Regions from separate parts of the Homo sapiens genome. Here region 1 is linked to region 2. The links come from fine-mapping of genetic effects on gene expression. Tissue or cell type: whole blood. Region 2 holds a variant in brackets; the other region holds the start of a gene. All regions are shown on one strand. Distances are from middle to middle.

Region 1 (8,112 bases), 33 kb before region 2:
CAAGATTTCCTTCCTCCTTATTCTCTTGAGTATTCATGGTGATACTCACCAGGAAAAAGGAAAGAGCTCTGATCAGTGTCAGGATTCCCAAGTTTGGTCCAGATCCTGCCTTACAAACACCACCAGCTCCTTTGCAGGGCTGTTAGGAGGATCAAATAAGGCTGTGAATGTGAAGGCTTTTGAAAATGGCTTTGTAACTACAAGGCACTATCACCTGTATATCTTCTGTTGTTGGTCTGTTGACATCTGCTCTTAATAGCTCAAGGAAGCAGCTCAGTATACTAAATGTACTAACTGCAAATCTCTGGTTAGTCACATTGCCCCTCAGGTCCTGTATTAGTTTCCTGTGGCTGCTGTAAAAAATTATCACAAGCCTGATGACTTAAAACAACAGAAATTCATTCTCCCACCGTTCTGTAGGCACAAGGTCTAAAATTAACATATTGGCAAGACCTGCTCCTTCTGAAAGCTCAAGGGGAGAATCTTTCTCTGCCTCTTCCAGCGTCTGGTGGTCTCTGGTGTTCGTTGAATTGTGGCTGCATAGCTCTAGTCTCTGCTTTGTCTTTTCACATGGCCATCTTCTTTGTGTCTCTGTGTGTCCTTTTTCTATTTCTTAGAAAGATGCACTACTCTCATTGGATTTGGGGATCACTCTGATTCACCCAGTATAATCTCATCTCAATTCTTACCTTAATTACATCTGAAAGATCCTGATTCCAAATAAGTCCACATTCTGACGTTCCAGGTGAAGAAGAATTTGGGGGCAGAGAGGACTCTATATAGAATCCACTCTAGAACCTCAGAACCTTCATCTAAACCATTTCTGACCCTCATTCAATGTATGTTTTTATTTAGTTCTAGATTGCACCAAACAGGAAAACTCTTCATATAGTGCCTAGCATTAGCTCAGTTATCTGTGTAGAGGGGATCCAGGAGATCAGAGTGGAGAGGCCTCATAGCGAGTCTAGAGAAGGTCTAATTCTGGAAATGAGAGGAAGGGCAAAGTAAACAAGAGAATAAGTGTCTGTCTTTGAGAGAGGAAGGTTTGACATGAATAGACAGCATGCATTCCAGGAGCCGTGCAGCTTGAGGAGAGAACACCAGTCTTGAAATCAGACCTGGATCATTGGTTTCCCATTTTTACAGGATGCCAATATTCTCACATCATTTAGTTATTTCAACTGATATTTTATGAATACGTAGACAGTATGCCATTCACTCCACCATTTGGATTCTCAGTTATTGTAACAGTGGTGTGTTGGTAAATGGTTAAGAGCCAGATCTCTGAAAAATAATATATGCATATATGTAAATGAGCTTGTTATAAATTTTGCTTATACGAAGAATGTGTAACACGCAATTTATAAAATAAAATTTATTGTATTTTAATAAAATGTACAATCCTCTTTATTGTAAATTCCATATAGCCACAGATCTCACAGGCTGTTTGCTTTCATATTGGCTTAATTCATATCCACAGCCAAACTGTGTTTACAAGTGACAAAGGAATGTAGTTCCAACATGAATGTTGGTTAATGTCTTTTTTGAAGTTAAAGAAATGTGAAACAACAAAAACATATGTTGGAACATCACTTGCTCATCAGTGACACTAGTGACTTTTTGCTGAATCAGATGATAGTTTTTGAATACTGGAAAAATGTTTCCTCAATTTTTTATGCTAATCCTAATGTAAGGGCCATAGTCATGGCACATGTTTAAGTTTACTCTGCATCATTATGTTTTCTCTATTACTTTCTTACATTTAGACAATCAACAAAACAGTAAAGTTCTGATTTATATTGCTTGCTGATTTCCATGGCATAAACTCTCACCATGGCCAGTTTCAAGCTCCCAACACTATGCCATTGAATGCAGAGTGGGGAAGAGAGGTCCAGAAGCACCAATGTTCCAGTATTTAATTTCCACTGTAGACACATAAGAGATGTCAATTACCTCAAGAACATAGATATCAGTAATGTCATAAAATAATTAAGAAACAATGAGCTTTGAGATTTTATTCCCTCTATTTAATATAATTTATTTAGTTGTGAAGTTTTTTTTAAAGGCAGGGTTTTGCTCTGTTGCCCAGGCTGGAGTGCAGCGGCTATTTACAGGTGTATTAGTCCACTCTCACACTGCTATAAAGATACTACCCAAGACTGGGTAATTTATAAAGGAAAAAGGTTTAATCGACTTGCAGTTCCACATGGCTAAGGAGGCCCCAGGAAACTTACAATCATGGTGGAAGGCAAAGGAGAAGCAAGGACCTTCTTCACATCACAGTAGGAGAGAGAAGAGCAGCCAAGAGCAGAAAATACTGCCTTATAAAACCATCCAATCTTGTGAGAACTCACTCACTGTCTTAAGACCGGCATGGAGGGGAAACTGCCCCCATGATCCAATCACCTCCCACCTTGTCCCTTTCTCAACACTTGGGGATTATGGGGATTACAATTCGAGATAAAATTTGGGTGGGGACACAGCGGCAAACCACACCAACAGGCATGATCATGATAGTCCGTTTTCACACTGCTATAAAGATACTACAGCCTCAAACTCTTGGGCTCAAGGGGTCCTCATGCTTCAGCCTCTCAAGTACCTGGGACTACAGGCATGTACCACCATGCCCAGCTTAACTGTAAGTTTATATAATTTAATTTAATTTTATATGTTTAATAATGGCCATGTTCATCAAGCACCTCACAAGATTCCTGAAAATCTATTTTTTATTTTTATTAAAAAAAATTGTTTGTAGACATGAGGTCTCACTCTATCGCCCAGACTATTTTCAAACTCTTGGCCTCAAAAATTCTCCCACCTAGGCCTCCACAAATGGTGGGGTTACAGGCGTGCCACTGTGCCCATCCAGATTCCTGAAAATTTAACAATTTTATGAGTTGGTACATGCTGACTCGAGCACACACCACTGGGAATAGTTGTGAGGAGGACAGTTGAGTGCTGGGGAAAGGAAGGAAGAAAACAGTGAGGATAAAGTTCACATATCTCACCAGCTTTTATTACCTGATCCCCATGGGGAGGCCCATCAGAGAGTGCCTATGACCTGTTACAATGGACTCTAAAAACACTTCCCTACTCTTTCAAGTCTCCCTGTGAGCATTGGTTACACTTCCAGTATCCCATTCTTATAGTTTAACTCATGAAAAAGGGCGGGATCCTCCTTCTGCCAATACTAGTTCCTTCTCCTCAATGAAAAGTTAGACACAAACTCCAAAATAAAGGCAACTCCCAGAATACAACACAGCCCCAATTAAATTAAAATGGCTTTTATCCAAAAGACAGGTAATAACAAATGCTGACAAGGATGTGGAGAAAAAGTACCCTTGTACACTGTTGTTGGGAATATAAGTTAGTACAACCACTGTGGAGAATGGTTTGAAGGTTCCTCAAAAAACTAAAAATAGAGCTACCATATGATCCACAATCTCACTGGTAGGTATACACCTAAAAGAAAAGAAATCAGTATATTGAAGAGATATCTGTACTCCCATGTTTATTACAGCACTATTCACAATAGCCAAGGTTGGAAGCGACCTAAGCGTCTATCACCGATGAGTGGATAAAGAAAATGTGGTACATATACACAATGAAGTACTATTCAGCTAAAAAAGAATTAGATCCTGTCATTCACAATGACATGGATGGAATTGAAGATCATTATGTTACGTGAAATAAGCCAGGCACAGACAGACAAACTTTGCACGTTCTCACTTGCTTGTGAGAGGTAAAAATTAAAACAATTGAACTTGTGGGCATAGAGAGTAGAAGGATGGTTACCAGAGGCTGAAGGGTAGTGGGGGTTGGGGAAGAAGTGGGGATGGTTAATGGGTACAAAAAAATAGAAAGAATGAATAAGAACTAGTATTTGATAATACAACAGTGTGACTATAGTCAATAATAATTTAATTGCACATTTAAAAATAAAAATATAATTGCACTGTTTGTAACACAAAGGATAAATATTTGAGGTGATGGATATCCCATTTACCCTGTGTGATTATTACATATTGCATGCCTCTATCAACATATCTCATATACCCCATACAAATATATGCATACCCCATACATATATATATACATACACACACACACACACACACACACACACACACACACACACACACATATATGTATATCTACTATGTACCCACAGACGTTAAAAATTAGAGGAGAAAACACACACACAACAAGGAGACTGAGCTGGAAGGATGGAGCTCTGGGATAGATTTGTCCTACATCCCTGCCTGGGAGGGAATCCACACACATGCAAGAAGACAAACTAGGAGCATGGGCTACTAAATTATACCACATTGCACTCATCGGGGTCACAGGGTTTCTTCCAAGTGACCCGCACATGCCCTTCCCATCTCTGTGTGACAGTGGCACCTGCACCAGACTGCATGTTGAGGTGTCATCTGAAATTATGAAATAAAACAGAAGTAAGAGGTCTATTAGCTCATCAAAATGCAGTTATCTAAGTTCAGCTGTGAACTGCCAAATTTGAGGAGTGATCCAATGAAACATCTTTTCTTTGCAATCCAAGAAGACTTACCGGAGAGAACTGCTCAGAGAATCTGCAACATCCGGTTCCTGGAGACAGCTAAGGAAAGAAGCTGGGGCGCATGTTTCTGCCCAAAGCCGGGTTTTGGCCGAGGTGACTACACACCCCCTTTCCTGGCTCCCATAGGCTAAGTGCCTGGCTTCTTGAGAAGCCTGCTTCTTGAGAACAAAAAAGTGATTTAAAGCCTCATGGGAGATGAGCAATCCTCAAGACACAAGCAGAAAAAGTCCCAGTGATACAGGAAGCGGGTTCAGGAACCTGCTGGTTCCTGATACATAAATCAGACAGCCTCTGCTGCATGACACGAAGCTTGCTTCTGCCTGGCATCTGTGAGCAGCTGCCAGGCTCCGGCCAGGATCCCTTCCTTCTCCTCATTGGCTGATGGATCCCAAGGGGCTCCTCTCCTTGACCTTCGTGCTGTTTCTCTCCCTGGCTTTTGGGGCAAGCTACGGAACAGGTGAGTGTTCATCTGCCTGATGGTTTGAGTCCCATGTTAGCTGCCAGGAATCAGCGTATCTTCGTGGATGGAGAGAAGGTGCAGGGCTGGGTATTGTGTTTGGTCACTCTTCCTTAGGGACTGGCTGTCAGTTTCAACTGCCTCTTTCAAAGAGGAAGGAACATTATAAGTTCCTGGGCCCTTGGGTTTCCAAGACTCAGCCCCACCAACCCCAGTTTCCAAGGAAATGAGGGGCTCTAAGCCAAAGGCTCCAGTCACTTTTCTGACCAGTCTTAGGGTGACAGGCCCTGGTAGAAGTCTTGCTTGAGTGGTTGGTTTTACATGGGCATCTTCTGGCAAAGACCCAGCCTAGAGAGACTGAGCTGGATGGACTGAGCTCTGGGAGAAGATTTGCCCTACATCCCTGCCCTGGGAGGGAATCTGTGCACATGCAGGCTGACAAACCAGGAGCATGGGTCAACAGAAAGCATTGGCTAGAGTGGGAAGAGAGAGTAGAAGTGAAAACTCCAGGCTTTTGGCTGAGAACCAGCAGTGGCCACAGTGCGGTCATACTGGTGTGTATTTTCTTGGAAGAGAAGGTCCAAGAAAGCAAGAGGGAAGAAGTTGGGATTTCTGAAGGCTAGGGCTGGTTACAGTATGTGGGAAATGCAAATTGGGAACCCTCAGAGAGTAGCTCCAGCAGGAAGGCCAGACAAGAGCTACCTTTGGATCTGGACTCTGTTCCTGTCTTTCTGTCTATCTTCTTCCCAAGGCAGGCTATTGCTTTCTGTTTAGAAGTATCAGGGCTATGAGAAAAGGTATTTGAGAAAGAAAAAGCCAAGCAAGAAGTGGACTTTGGACTGCCTGTGTGAGTGGGGTGAGAATCTCCTTCTGCTTATTTGTTTAGACTGTGGGAGGTAGCCTGGAGTAGAAGAGGTGGCATTACGGACACGGGGGGAAATCCTGAGGCCCAGGGTGTTTTAAGCTTGGGGTTTTCAAGACCGCAAATCCAATATGGACTTTTCCAGGAAAAGCACCGTGATATGCCAGGGATGTGGGGGTGCTGCACAATGGATGTGTCTTTTACCAGACAGCCAGACGAACAGGGCTTGCTCAGCCCACTTTCTTTTGGAATCTGCAGATCCATGGCTCGTACTTCCCAAGGTCTAGGGGAGGAAGAACTGAGCTCGGGGCTCAGAAAACCAAATCGAGCCACTTTAAGTGGTCACAGGGAAAGCCAAGCCTCCGTTGTTGCAACCAATTTGTGACTGCACCATTTCTGGAGCACCTCTTGGTGACTGTAAGGTGTGATGGAGTGATGGTGCTGAACTGTGAACTGGACTTTTCCATCTCTGTGCTTGCTAGCCTCTTGGCCAGCCTGGCCCATAGCATCTTAGGCACTGCTGACCAATAGCTCGTCTTATTGAGGCTTTGGAAGTCGCCGGTCAGGGAGAAGCAACCCAGCCCCACAAGGCAAGTCTATCCAATCGGAGGCTGCTCACTTCATTGCATGTTTTCTTCTTTGAATCTTCACAAAAGTTTTTCAGTGTTTTTATTTTTAAATACACACCCTTTTGTGAAGCCCCAATAAAACCCAGACAGAAATGCTTTGCAAATGGGGCAGGTTAGTCATGACAGATTTGCCCAAGCAAGAAGCTTGATTCTTGTAAAACTGGCATCCACTCCCATTCTCATTTCTACTCAGCTCAACTTCTAATTCCCAGTCAGAATTGTAAAAATCAAAAAGTCCACATGTCCCTTCCCCAAGTAAAGTGAATTTTTCATTTCCCCCGATGAGATTTGTTTTAATAGACTTTATTTTTTAGAGCAGTTTTAGGTTCACAGCAAAGTTGGGCAGAAAGAACAGAGATTTCCCATATGCCCTCTGCCCCATACATACATAGCCTCCCCTATTATCAATATCCCCCACCAGGATGGTACATTTGTTATAATTGATGACCTTATGTCAATGAGTTTTTTTTATTCCTCCATGCAGTTCCTCTGCACCCCCTTCACACACTTTGGGGGAAGGTGAGGGACAAGTGCGTGGGTTCTAGACTTGGCCTAACCTTGCGTGTTCAGTGGCCCATTCTATCCCAAGATGTCAATCTAGGCACTTCTATTTCTCAAAAATATTAATACTGTGATGTGATGCTGTCACTTTCACTGTCTCCCTCACTGGACTGGAAATCAGAGTATCAGGGCTAATTGGTTTAATCCATAGATTTGACTTTGAATGATCCCATTCAGCAACTATTAAGGACACATGATGTGGCAGCCACTGTGCAAGGGTGCAAGGTGTGGGGAAAACAAAATGAACAACAGCCACTGCCCAGCACCTGACACTGTGTCTGTACTGAGAGCCTGTCCACAAATATTTGTTGAGTGAATAATACTGGTATATACTGCATACTTGCCATATACCAGGCACTGTTCTAAATGCTTTATGTGTGTCAGTCATTTCATTTTCACACCAACCCTATAAGAAATGTATGTATTATTGGTACCATTACAACTTTATAAATGAGGAAAGGGGCACAGAGTAGTTTAGCAATTTCTCTGCGCTCACATAGCTGCCTGACTCCAGAGGCCTCAATGAGTAAAACTGGACAAGCCTATGTTTGGGAAGCAGGGGTGGAGAGAATGCCAAAATTTGTATCCAGGTCCCATGGTAAAAATTAGAATGTGCTATCTATAATTGAAAAATATGAGTTGAATTGAATTGGAATAAATTGAAGTATAGAAATGTCCAAAAGGTGAGAGACTGATAAAAATCACAGAAGAACGTAGAGGGCATATAAGAAGTATTTGACCTGGAATTTGGAAAATGAAAACTTTTTTTCATCATGCAAATGTTCATTTAATTTTTTTTTGTTAACTAGTTTGTTTATTGATTATCACATCTATAAAACATGTCATGTCTATGAAACTTCAACAGTACACAAGAGTATTTAGTGAAGACTAATTTCCCTTCCATACCTCATGCTGGAGGCAACCACTGTGACCAGTTTCTTGTGTGTCTTTCCAAATGTATAGGTCTTCGTGTTTGATAGATCAGTACGGTGACTATAGTTAACAATAATCTATTGTACATATC
Region 2 (8,112 bases):
CTTATTTCTGCTGTCCCCTAGTGGCCTGGAGGGCTTATTACACAACCCAGCTCCATCCTTCCCCCAACTAAACTCCATTTAAATAGATGAGAATCCCAAGAGTAACCCTTTCACCCCACGCTCTCATCTGCCTGTTTAGGTAACCAGGTTCACCTTGACCATAGTGTCTTCCCTCACTACTCTATCCTATGCTGCTAGCATCCCTCTTTTTTACTGTGAAGCATGACATATGGTAGTCACTAGCCACATGTAGCTTTTTAAATTTAAATTAATTTGAATTAAATAAAATTTAAAATTCAGTGGCATTCATCAGTTCAGGACTGTCCTCCCAGTTCTACATTTGAGTCTGAGCTGACCTGCAAGACTGAAAGTCTTTGAGGACTGGAGTCTGTTCTCTACTCTATTTGTAGCCACTATACACCTAGGAGAGTGCTGGGCAGGCATGTCTTACTTTGCAAACACTCGAGGGGACTAACTTCCACCTCCTCTGCTACTTCCAGCTGCTTCTAATCACACTTTTAGTCCTCTCCTCCATTTTACACACACACACACACACACTCACTCTCACATACACACACTCATGCATACCCACTCCTCAGTAAGGATCAACTCTGACCAAAAAAATACACAACACATTAATGTCAGCTCAGTGAGTTACCCTTAAACACATATCTCGATATTTGGTAAAGCAAGTCTTCCTAATTTGTTTTTCTGCAAAAGTTTTTGGCTATTCTTGTTCCTTTATACTTTCATATGTATTTTAGAATCAACTTATCAAGTACCACAAAAAGAAAAAAAAATATTAGAATTGTATTGAGTCTACAGATCTATATGAGGAGAAATTACATTTTTCAGTGTTGCGTGTTTTTTGTTTTTTGTTTTTTGTTTTTTGACAGAGTCTTGCTTTATCGCCCAGGCTGGAGTGCAGTGGTGTGATCTGGGCTCACTACAACCTCCGCCTCCTGGGTTCAAGTGATTCTCCTGCCTCAGCCTTCCAAGTAGCTGAGATTACAGGCACCTGCCACCACACCCAGCTAATTTTTGTATCTTTAGTAGAGATGGGGTTTCACCATGTTGGCCAGGCTGGTCTCAAACTACTAACCTCAAGTGATCTGCCCACCTCAGCCTCCCAAAGTGCTGGGATTACAGATGTGAGCCACTGTGCCTGGCCTCAGTATTGAGTCTTCTAATACCATAAAACTACCACTCAGATCAAAGACTAGAACATTGCCCGTACTTCCTGAAGGCCTCCTGTGCCACTTCCCAATCATTACTTCCTCTCTCCTCCCCAAAGATAACCACTATCCTGACTTCTAGAAAAATAGGTTAGCTTTTTCCTTTTTTATTTTTGAACTTTATAAAAATTGAATTCTTTATTCTTTTTTCTCTCATGTCTGATTTATTTTGCTCAGTATTATCTTTATGAGATTCATATATGTCTTTGAATTTAGATATAATGCATTCTTTTTCATTGCTTCATAGAATATAAACGTATGAATATACTAGAGTTTATTTATCCAGTTGACTATTGATGGACATGTGGGTTATTTCCAGTTTGAGGCTATTATGAAAGTTGCAGCTGTGAACATTCATATGCAAGTCGTTAAGTGGACATGTGCACATATTTTTTTGGGTATATACCTAGATATACCTGGAAGTAGAACTGCTGAATCGTAGAGTATGCATACCTCCAAATTGACTAGATAAGGCCGAGCTGTTTTTCAAAGTGGGCGTATCCATTTACTTTTCTATCAGCTACATATGAGAGTCTCAATTGCTATGCCTTTTTTTTTTAAATTTTTTTTTGAGACAGAGTTTCACTCTGTTGCCTAGGCTGGGGTGCAGTGGCGTGATCTTGTCTTACTGCAACCTCCGCCTCCTGGGTTCAAGCCATTCTCCTGTCTCGGCCTCCCAAGCAGCTGGGATTACAGGTACGCACCACCACACCTGGCTCATTGTTGTATTTTTAGTAGAGACAGTATTTCACCATGTTGGCCAGGGTGGTCTCGAACTCCTGATCTCAGGAGATCTGCCCGCCTCAGCATCCCAAAGTGCTGGGATTACAGGCATGAGCCACCACTCCTGGCCTCAATTGCTATGCATTCTAATGAAAACTTGGTATTAACAGTCTAATTTTAGTCCTACTGTTGGATGTGTCTTATTATGCTTTTATTCCACATCTCTGTAATTATTAAGGAAGTTGAACAACTTTTCATATGTTTATTGGCCATATTAAAATTCTTTCTTAAAGTGCCCATTTAATCTCTTGCCCATTTCCCTTTGAGGTTTAGTCTTTCTTTTATGGACTAGTATATGCTTTTCATATATTTTGGATATGTGCCCTTTGGCAGATATGTTAGCAAATACCTTCACCCATCTGTAGCTTGCCTTTGGAATTTCTCAGAGATACCTACTGATAAAGAGAAGGTCTTAATTTTGTTGTAGACCAATTTAGTCTAGTCCTTTTTAAGCATTACTGGATTTTATTTGCTAATATTTTGTTAAGAGTTTGGTTTTCCACTTATGTTTCTGAGTGAAATTGGCCTGTAATTCTCTTGTATAATGCCTTTTTTTTTTTAAGAAGGCACTGCAGTGGCTGGTATATAGCATTCTTGTGAATATATCTAACTGGGATACAAGTTGAGGTAGAAATATTTCAAATGTCCTTAAAAAAATAAGTAACAGAGTTCTTCCTGGACTCTTCTTTAATCACAAGCCTCAGATTGATCCCAAAATGACACACAGCTACTCTACCTAATACCCACATCACGGTAAAGTTGGTCGCTCTCCTGTTAAAAATTCAGACTTTAAGAACTGGAAGGGACCTGGGTAGTCATGCCCAACCAGTGGGGTTTTGATATAAAGATTTATGCTAATTCACATAAGGAGTTGGGGTATATGTTAGTTTCCTAGGGATGCCTTAACAAATTACTGGAAACTTGGTGGCTTAAAACAACAGAAATTTATTCTCTAACAGTTCTGGAGGTCAGAAGTCCAAAATCAAGGAGGCACATCCTCAGGGCCACACTCCATCTGGAGGCTTTAGGAGAAAATCCTCTTTGCCTCTTCCAGCATCTGGTGGCTCCAGGCTCTCCGTGGCATTTGTTGGCTTGTAGTTGTGTATCTGCAATTTTTGCCTTCATCTTCACATGACCTCCCTCTCTGTGTCTTCTTCTTTTCCATCTCTTATAAGGACAGTCATCATCAGACTTCGGACTTATTCTAATCCAGGATGACCTTATTTTGAAATCCTTATCTTGACATCTGTGAAGACCTTTATTCAAATAAAGTCACATTTTGACATTCTGCCTGGACATATCTTTTGGGGCCACAGTTCAACCCACCACAGGGTGCATTTCCTTTTTGTTATTCTCTGCGATATTTGGGTAGGATGTCTTATTTCTCCCCTTAAATATTTGCTAGTAGAGCAAATTGCTAGTAAAGCTATCTGAGACTGGGGTTTCTTTGGTGGAAATTTTTTTAAGTTATATTTTTATTATTAAATTTTCTCCTCTACATATTAGTGAACAACTTTTTTCAGTCTTTTTAGTGGCTACCCTAGAAATTATAAAATACAACTTTGACTTACCAAAGTCTAAGGTTTACTTCCCTCCTGCATAATACTTCAAGTCCACAATAATTTCACCTCTTGATTTAAGTGACCGTTTTGTCATTATTTGAATTTCATATATATTTTAAACACACAAGACATAATTATTATTGTTTTATATATATAAATATATACTTAGACTTACCCACATTTTCACAATTTTCTTTGTTCATATTTGCGATGTCTTTATTATATCAATATAAAGACTGTAATAATGTAGACAATTATTTAAAAACTAACAATGCCTTTATTCTTATTTTTAATGGCTATAAAATAATCTTATAAAGAATATAATAACATGAAAATCACTAAACAAGTGTTTACTGTGTGCTAGGAACTCTTCTAGGACTTATCAGAGCTAGTATCTTGCAGAATTAATTCCAGCGGCCACCATTCACAAAAATTATGTGAAAATAATGCCTCTGGAGTTGCTTGTAAATGATGCTCCCTAAAGATGTACAAATCAGTGGTCCTAACAGAAGATAATAAGATACAAAAATATACTAACTTATTATATTTATGTTTAAAATAATTCCCTATGCCTGGATAAAAATCCTGAAGTGAACATTTAAGCACACACAGAGTCTTAATAGGACTAT[G/A]GGTGACTTCTTTTACATATTTTTCTCCTTTCTAAAACTTCTGAATTAATGTTAAAAATGTAAGTTATTTGCCTCCTTCTGCCTCTAGGTCAGGTTATGCTAAAGTTCTCCCAAACAGGAAGACCAGCAGAGGTTGCATCTGTTGATAAAGGTCTCTCTTCTTTTTTTTTTTTTTTTGGTGATGCGGAGTCTCACTCTGTCGCCAGGCTAGAGTGCTGTGGCGCCATCTCAGCTCACTGCAACCTCCAGCTCCCTGGTTCAAGGGATTCTCCTGCCTCCGCCTCCTGAGTAGCTGGGATTACGGGCATGCACCATCATTCCTGGCTAATTTTTGTATTTTTAGTAGAGATGGGGTTTCACTATGTTGGCCAGGATGGTCTCGATCTCCTGACCTCGTGATCCACCCACCTCAGCCTCCCAAAGTGCTGGGATTACAGGCGTGAGCCACCACGCCCGGCCAAAGGTCTCTTAATAAACTGTTTTGATAGCCTCTTTATCTCATCACTGCAAGAAATTCTTTCTTAAACTCAAAATTTCTTCAAAATGTATTTAAGAATTGTATGGGATCTTGAAAGCCATCTATCTGAACCACCCAATTACTGCTTGAATTATCTGCTACAACATTACTTCCAAAGTGTTGCCTAGCTCCTTTTTACTGAAATATAGTTTGTGAACAAGCAGCATCAGCATCACCTGGGACTTTATTAGAAATGCAGAATCAGGCCCTGCTCCAGATCTTCCGAAATAGAATCAACCCTTTAACAAGATCCCCAAGTAATTCATATGCATAATAAAAGTCAGCAGCACTGGTCTAGACCATGCCCAAGCACTTATAACTATAGGAGCTCATTGCCTGCCAAGGCAATTCATCCCACATTTGAACATCTTTTACCATTAGAAAGATCTTCATTATATTGAATCAAAATATTTTCCCCAAATCCTAATCTTGGTTTAAACCTGAGATACTTTATAGGCAAATTGAATTCCTTTTCTATATGGCAATTCATCAAATATATGAAGAGAAAAATTATGTCCCATCCCTTTTTCCTCCAATAAACTTTCCTAATTCCTTAACCCTTCCATCACATGACAAAATTCCAAGTTTTCTCGCATTAAAACACATGTGGTGTGGCTTCAAGTCTGGCTCTATACCCAGGGAGAGTGGACAGCAGCATTATCCCATAACCAGTGTCCCCAAAATGTGTTGAATTAATGACTTCCCTATTGTAAGTGATGGCATCCGCATCTTACAAGGATGTGGTCTCAATTTATTTTGAGGTCTTTGTCCAGGAATTGTGGATTTTAATTCGTTCAAAGTAACATCAACAAATATCAGCTGAAGAGTTTATTTTTATGTGTCCAATACTGTTCTGTGGGGAGTACAAAAATATATGGCTTATTTCTCAAGGAATGTATAGACTGGAGAAACAACACATAAATATATCAGAATGTTTTAAATATAGCATAGAGTGCCATAAAGTGTAAATTAGACTTTAAATACCTGAGGAATTTAAGTAAGGGATAGGTCATTATAAGTTGAGTGACCAAAAAAGAATAGTGATAGAAAGGACATGCACCTTAAGTTAAAAGAGCTTAAGGCAGGGGACTCCCGGCTTTGACACTTCTTGCTTGTACACATTAGGAAAACATTTGGTCTTTCTGAGCTGTAGCTTCATCATCGGTGAAGTGTGAGTAACAACAGTATTTAACACAGAGTGGTTGTGAGGCAAATGAGAAGACATATGTGAGGAGGAGGAAGAGTAGGAATGGCAGTGTGGGATGCAAGAATTCTGCATGTAGCCGGTGATATGAGTGAGACGGACTAAATTCTGTTGCTATTCTGTCCCCTCCAGCTGCCCCTGTAAGAGCCACACCAATTTCAGTTTCTTGTGAGGAAGACATTTAAAACATTTGAGAAGCACTGACAATGGATGAGGCTGCCTTGGGAGGTTGTGCACCCCAAGACGCCACTTGGGGAGTCCAAGCAAAGCCTGGGGAATTGAGTTCCAGAGAATTTGGGGGAGAATTCCCACCTGAGAAGGAGGTTGGACCAAATGACTGGAAGGAACTTTCTGCCTCAAGTCTTCTTGAGTCTGTGCTTCTCTATCGGAGAGTTGGGTGAGAACTAGCTCTCTCTGTTCAGCTAATCTGCTTTCTTTGCTTCTCTTGTAGCCTCTTCAGAAGAAACTTGACTCCTTCCCAGCTCAGGACCCTTGCACCACCATATATGTTGCTGCCACAGAGCCTGTCCCAGAGTCTGTCCAGGTGAGGCATCTCTCTGCCTACTCTCCGTAGAGAGGGAATACATGAAGGAGGGGAAAATGAGGAAGTTTTTTTTTTTTAAGGTGGGAAGAGGGAGAGGATCAGGGAAAATAGCTATTGGGCACTAGGCTTCATACCTAGGTGACAAAATACTGTGTATAACAAATCCTCATGACACAAGTTTACCTATGTAACAAACCAGCACATGTACGCCTGAACTTAAAATAAAAGTAAAAAAAAAAAAATTAAAACAAAAACAAATTAAATGAAACAGATTGATGAGTCCTGGACTGGGGAAGGGAGGCCACAGCATGCAGGCAAAAAGGAGTCTCTGTGGCTTTGGTTTTCCAGTTTCCATGAAGCCCCCAATACCTGCTCACACGGGGCCACTGCTAACCCCCTGCTGGCCAGTGTTTCCCTGAGAGTTGTCCAAGGACCACATCAGAATCAGCCAGCGTACTTGTTAAAAATAAAGATTCCTAGGGACTTCCACCTAGGATTCTGTTAAATGAAAATGTCTATGGAGAGTAGCCATAGACCTACGTATTTAAAAAACCCACACCCCAGGTAATTCTGATACACACTCAAGTTTAAGAACAGCAGCTGGAGTCCAGGAGTTCTCAACTCCAGCTACAAAACAGAATCACCAGGGAAGCATTGTAAAAATGCTCATGCCTAGACTCTGTGCAGCCCCATTTAATCAGAATATTTAGGGGTGGAGATCTGCATAGGTGTTAAGCCTAGAAGAGAATATGGGGTGCAGCTCAAAATGATACTTGCATATTCTACCCTATTGCAAGATCAGCAGGGACTAAGTTTACTTCGGACAGGAATCTTTCCTTTACTGAATGAATAGAAATAAATTCTGGGCTGAAATCTTTGCTCCATTTGGGCTCTTTCAGAAGAGAGCCCAGGATGATAGAGGCACAAAGGTCACACAAATGCCTGCATCCACCTTATTTTTCAAAGCTCCTACCGCACACACACTCATCCAGAAATGCCTGGGCAGGTGCCCTATATTTCAAGATGAAACCAATCTTCAACTTGAGGTCCATTCTCACTTCACTGTCATATCTAAGAAGGAAGTAAAAATATAAACCTGACTTCAAAGCTTCAAAAAAATACATAGATTTTTAATGAAGTTTACTTAAGGACAAAAACAGTATGCTATAGTTAACATTTTATGGCAAAACCCTTAAATTCTATTTTCTTTGTTTCTTTGACATGAGAGATCTTTGCGCATAACCCTCTTCTCCCCTTCCTCTCTCCTGCCAATACCACTTTTCTCTTCTCCCTTTGAGTCCCACTAGACTTTTTAAAAACTCAATAATTTACAACTCTCTTGGCTTCCCAGATTGTGACCCATATGTAACAGCAAAACAAATGGTTTTCCTTACAAGGGGATGGAAGGGGAGAGGGCAAAGAGGGAGACAGGGCACTGAGTGCTGGTCCTCAGATCATGCTCCCCATAATAGCATGCTTATGCTTGGAAGGGAGCTGTGGCCCTTGTTGCAGGTGGAGAAGCAGTGTGGGAACCCAAGTGCTGTCCCAGCAAGGCCCTGTCTGTGACAGACCCTGCACAAGCCATGATCTCTAAGACCCTTTCCTTTTCCTCAGCAGTGCTGTTTTCATTTGCATTCT

What was found. PIP is the estimated chance that this variant, and not a neighbour inherited with it, causes the effect.
Region 1: SLAMF1 starts here. The variant in region 2 is fine-mapped to the expression of SLAMF1 in whole blood (TOPMed, PIP 0.91).

Annotation. Positions count from the first base shown.
Region 1 is chr1:160,643,794-160,651,905 of GRCh38, reverse strand. SLAMF1 (signaling lymphocytic activation molecule family member 1) reads left to right here and starts at 4,862. Exons shown (of 7, transcript NM_003037.5): 1 at 4,862-5,036. The coding sequence starts at 4,961. LOC107985220 (a long non-coding RNA gene) reads right to left here and starts at 4,897. Exons shown (of 2, transcript XR_001738266.2): 1 at 4,571-4,897; 2 at 1-4,433. RefSeq lists enhancers at 4,731-4,780, 4,821-5,030.
Region 2 is chr1:160,610,850-160,618,961 of GRCh38, reverse strand. SLAMF1 (signaling lymphocytic activation molecule family member 1) reads left to right here. Exons shown (of 7, transcript NM_003037.5): 6 at 6,382-6,474. Among named protein-coding and RNA genes, the nearest start is that of SLAMF1, 32 kb to the left of the region's middle. The variant G/A (reference allele first, on the strand shown) is at 4,210.